Regions from separate parts of the Homo sapiens genome. Here region 2 is linked to region 1. The links come from fine-mapping of genetic effects on gene expression. Tissue or cell type: CD4 T cells. Region 1 holds a variant in brackets; the other region holds the start of a gene. All regions are shown on one strand. Distances are from middle to middle.

Region 1 (2,679 bases):
ACTTTCAGTCTGCGTATGTCTTTATAGGTAAAGTCGGTTTCTTATAGGTAGCATATAGTTTGATCTTGTTTTTTATCCATTTAGCCACTCTGTGTTTTTTGCTTGTTTTTGAGACAGGGTCTCACTCTGTTGCCCAGGCTGGTGTGCAGTGGTGTGATCATAGCTCACTGTAGCCTTGAACTCCTGGGCTCAAGCAGTCTTCCCACCGCAGCCTCCTGATAGTTAGGACTACAGGCGTGTGCCACCACACCTGGCTGTTTTATTTATTTATTTATTTATTTTTTGTAGAGGCGAGGTCTTGCTATGTTGCTGAGGCTGGTCTTGAACTCTTGGCCTCAGATGATCTTTCCACATTGGCCTCCCAAAGCGCTGGGATTACAAATGTGAGCCACTGTGCCTGGCCTACTCTATGTCTTTTAGTTGGAGAATATAGTACATTTGCTTTCAATATTATTATGGATAAAGACTTAATATTGCCATTTTGTTGCTTGTTTTCTGATTGTAACTCCTCTCTTCCTTTTTTACTGTCTTCCTTCGCATGTGGTTAAGAGATTTTCTCTGTTGGTATGTTTTAATTTGTTGCTTTGTATTTTTAGTCTATGTATTATATGTAGTGTACCATCAGGCTTACAAAAAGCATTTTATATTTATAACAAGTTATTTAGTTATTTTAGCTGGGCGTGGTGCTCTGTGACTGTACCCTAGGTACTCAGGAGGCTGAGATAGGAGGATTGCTGGAGCCCAGGAGTTTGAGGCTGCAGTGAGCTATGATCGTGCCATCGCACTTCAGCCTGGGTGACAGAGTGAGACCCCTCTCTTAAAAAACAATCATTTTAAACACATGACACCTTATCTGTGATCACAGAGGAAAGAATAGAAACAAAGGAGAAACTGAAGAATTCTGTACTTTAACTGCATCTTTCCCCCAAATTTTCACGTTTTCTTATTTCAATTTATTTTTTTTTATATTGGCTCTCTCTTTCCAGGTTGCTGTAGTTATTATTTTTGATACATTTTTCTTTTAGTCTTCACACTAGAGATGTGAATGAATGCACACCACATTCACAGTATTATTCTGAGTCTGTGTGTTTACTTTTGCCAGTGGGTTTTATACTTCACATGTTTTCTTTTTGTACATTAGTGTCTTTTTCTTTCAGATTGAAGAACTTTTTTTTAGCATTTCTTGAAAGTTGGGTCTGATGAATTCCCTCAGCTTTACTCTTTCATGTTTGAAGGTGTGTCCTCAGTTGACAGTTGCATTTTTTTTTCCTTCAGCACTTTGAATATATCATCCCATTGCCTCCTGGCCTATATGGATTTCCTGGAGAAGTCTGTTGCCAGTTACATTGGAGCTCTTTTATAAATATATTTGCTGCTTTTCTCTTACTACTTGTACTACTTACTGCTTGTAGGATTCTTTCTTTGTCCTTGACTTTTGAGAGTTTGATTATTATATTCTGTAGGGTAGTTTTATTTGGGTTAAATCTGTTTGGTGATCTCTG[A/G]CCTCCCTGTACCTGGACATTTATGTCTTTCTGAGGGTTTGAAAATTTTTCTGTAATTATTTCTTTGAATAAACTTTCTGTGCCTTCCTCTTGCTCGGTTCCTTCTTGAACCCCAGTAATTCCTAGGTTTGCTCCTCTGAGGCAGTTTTCTGTATCTTGCATGTGTTCTTCATTCCTTTTCATTCTTCTTTTTTCTCTTTCCTCTTCTATATGTTTTCAAATAGCCAGTCTTCAGGCTCACTGATTTTTTCCTCTGCTTGGTCCATTCTGCTGTTGAGAGCCTCTAATATATTTTTCAGCAAATGTATTTTTTACTTCCAGGATTTCTGTTTGATTTTTTTTTTTTAATTTCAATCTCTGTTAAATTTGTCTGACAAATTTGTGAGTTGTTTTTCTGTGTTTTATTGGAGTTTGCTGAGTTTTTTTTTAACTGTTACCTTGAATTCTTGATTTGAGCGCTTACACGTTGCCATCTCATTAGGGTTGGCCACTGGCTCTTTGCTTTGTCTGTTTGAGAAGGTCGCGGTTTTCCGTTAGCTGTTGTTTCTTGTGCACATATGTCTGTGGTTTTGCATTGAAGGATTTGTTATCCAGGCTTTCCTGTCTGGCTTTTTTTTTCTTGGATGTTTGCTTAGAGGTTTTTTGCAGCTTACTTTCTGCCTGGAGTTTTTTTCACTTCTCTGGTCTCATCCTCAGATTTGAGTTCTGGAATATTGCTGGTGATATTCTTGGCACTGGATGTTTGGTTTTGGTTTTCTTTGAGAGGGTGAGGGAAGCCAGATTGCTTCTACTTCTCTATTTGGTGATGTCATTCCCTCTATTAACTCTTCGCTATTTTTGATACTATTGTAAATGGTATTGTTTTTATGTTCACTTTTGATTTTTCATTGCTAGTATACAGAAGTAGAATTGATTTTTGTATATTGATCTTGTATCTTGTAACCCTGCTAAACTCATTTATTCATTCTATTAGCTCTTTGTAGATTCCAGTTAGATTTTTTACCTAGACAATTATGTCATTTGCAAATAAAGATCATCTTACTTTTTCTTTTCCAGTCCAGATGCCATATTTTGTTTTCTTGCTTTATTGCACTGGCTACAGTCTTCAATACAATTGACAGGTTTTTTTAGTATTTGAGATGTGGTGAGAACAGACATCTTTTTTTGTTCCTGATCT
Region 2 (2,679 bases), 43 kb after region 1:
GAGAGGTCCCATTTCTCTACATCCTTACCACTGTTTCATTTTGTTTTTAAGACAAAGTCTTGCTCTGTCACCCAGGCTGGAGTGCAGTGGTGCAATCTCAGCTCACTGCAACCTCCGCCTCTTGGGCTCACGCCATTCTCATGCCTCAGCCTCCCGAGTAGCTGGGACTACAGGTGCATGTCACCCTGCCCGGCTAATTTTTGTATTTTTAGTAGAGACAGGGTTTCACCATGTTGGCCAGGGTGGTCTCGAACTCCTGACCTCAGGTATCTGCCCACCTCAGCCTCCCAAAGTGCTAGGATTACAGGCGTGAGCCACTGCGCCTAGCCTGTTCCATTTTTATAACTTCTATTTCTTTGCTGAGATTTCAATTTTTCCACTTATTTCAAGAGCATTTGCAATTTGTTGTGGAAACATTTTTATGATGCCTGTTTTAAAATCCTTGTCAGATAATTCTGACACCTGACTCTTCCTGGTGCCGCCCTTAGTTGGTTGTCTCTTACTGAAATGGTCGTGTCCCTGGGTCTTCATATGATGAGTGATTCTTAACTGTATCTTCTCTCAAGGGTTTTCATTCCAACGACAGTTCAGTTCTCAGAGTTCTTGCAAAGCTCTTCCGTGTCATTCTTCTGGTGCTGCTGGGACTCCCACTCAAACCCTAATCCTACCCCTACCCCTAACTCTGCTAGTGCCATCTGCTGGCACAGAGGACGCCTCCTTGGCTGTCTGGGGCCACTGCCTTCTGTGGTGGTGGCATGGCTGAAGCCGACGGGCCCGGGTGGAGGGCAGAGACGCAGGGCTTCACTGATGCTGTGCTGTGGGCAGGTTGGACCATCTCTGCCTGATGGTTGGGTCTAGTCCCATCAGCAGCTTGATCAGTGTGGGAGGAAACCCACAGCCTGCACCCTCCCCATGTCTGGTGATGCTCAGGCCAGCAAGGCATTGGCTGCTCTGCTCACGGCTGAGAGGCAGAGCTGCTGATTCGCTCTGGAAAGGCTGTGGCTGTCCCCATTGGACCCTGGAGGTCCTTGGCAGCTCCCACTTCTGTATATGTGACTCTGGGCTGTGACCTCTGCCATTGCCCCAGCTAAGCAGCGAGAGCTTGCTGAAGCCCAGAGGGCTGTGGGACCATGAGGGCAGCTCTCTGGACCCTGGGACTCGGGCCCCTTCTTCTGAATCTCTGGGCAGTCCCCATTGGTAAGTTTCTGCTTCCTTCATCCATGGAACTTTCTGGAGGCATCAGCTCTGTTGATGCCCAGGCCCCGGGGCATGAGGGTCCCTGCAGTGACCTGCCGTCTGCCTGGGTCTCACTCAGCCCAGAGTGGGTGGGACATGCTGGGGCAGGAGGGAGGTGACTCCACATGGCTGGATCCCTGTGACCTCAGGGCCCCCAGACCCTAGCCCCACTGCTTGGAACCCAGGGTTCAGGGCTGGGTCAGGCCCTGGACAAAATGAGGGACACGGCCCAGTGTCTGGTCCCAATGACCCTGATCAACAGAGTCCTGAGGGGTCCTGCGGGGGCTGCTCCATCCACGTGCCCTGGAGCAGGGCTGAGGTCCTGGGAAGGAGGTGGGAGGGTTGGCTGCATCTGGCAGTGAGGTTGAGCATGGGGTCCCATGGAGATGCTGCACCCAGGTGGAGACACTGGGGTGTGAAGCCATGTGGAAGGGCTGCTGGGTCAGGGGCAGGGAGGTGTAGAGAGGGGGGTCTAGCTAGAAGGAACAGCAGGAGAGGCTGGAGGTGAGAGGGAGCCCCGGGGACCTGCGTACGTGGGCATGGAGCCATGATGTGAGTGTGGGGCTGGGCGGGAGGCAGGGGAGGGTGCCCTTGAGGCTGAGGAACACTTCACTGTCAAGGCTGGTCCAGGTGCCCAGCAGGGCGGTGACCTGGTGCTGGACGGAGCCACATCCCCAGCGGTGGGGTGGAAGTCTGTGGGCAGCTGCAGAAAGTGCAGAGGAGGTTAGGATTTGAAGGAAAGGCAGCAATGTGGCCACAGATGGATGGAAGCCTGGGGTTGAAGGGATTTGCTTTTGTGTCAACGATCGCATGCACAAGGGCCGGAATTCTCTATTACAACAAGAAATAGCTTTAGAAAATATAAAATGAAAAGCTATTCATAGCGGGCGTGGTGGCTTATGGCTGTAATCCCAGCACTTTGGGAGGCTGAGGCAGGCAGTTTACCTGAGGTCATGAGTTCGAGATCAGCCTGGCCAACATGGTGAAACCCCATCTCTACTAAAAATACAAAAATTAGCCAGTCGTGGTAGTGGGCGCCTATAATTCCCGCTACATGGGAGGCTGAGGCACGAGAATCAGTTCAACCCTGGAGGTGGACATTGCAGTGAGCTGAGATCGTGCCATTGCACTCCAGCCTGAGTGACAGAGCGAGACTTTTGTCTAAAAAAGAAAAAATTGCAGACACCAGCACGCATCCATGTCCTGAGAAGAACCAGGTGGGGAGGGTGATGAGGAGGCTGGGGGGTGTGGAGGGATGGATGAAGACTGAGAGAGAGGAGATTCAAGGCTCCCCAGGAGGTGGGAGGGAAAGGTCTTCATCTTGGACCAGGCAGGGTCCCCCCTCTGCTCCTGACTGCCATCGGGGAGGCTCTTTTCTGGGTGTGGAGAGTCCTCCAGGGGCCCTGGAGGCTGCTCTGGGACCACACAGCACCACCCACATGG

Evidence for each region. PIP is the estimated chance that this variant, and not a neighbour inherited with it, causes the effect.
Region 2: it holds the start of SCART1, and the variant in region 1 is fine-mapped to the expression of SCART1 in CD4 T cells (BLUEPRINT, PIP 0.94).

What each region holds. Positions count from the first base shown.
Region 1 is chr10:133,409,954-133,412,632 of GRCh38, forward strand. The region is part of intron 9 of MTG1 (mitochondrial ribosome associated GTPase 1); the gene reads left to right. Among named protein-coding and RNA genes, the nearest start is that of SPRN, 13 kb to the right of the region's middle. The variant A/G (reference allele first, on the strand shown) is at 1,503.
Region 2 is chr10:133,452,868-133,455,546 of GRCh38, forward strand. SCART1 (scavenger receptor family member expressed on T cells 1) reads left to right here and starts at 1,078. Exons shown (of 12, transcript NM_001396050.1): 1 at 1,078-1,197. The coding sequence starts at 1,131. RefSeq lists an enhancer at 803-852.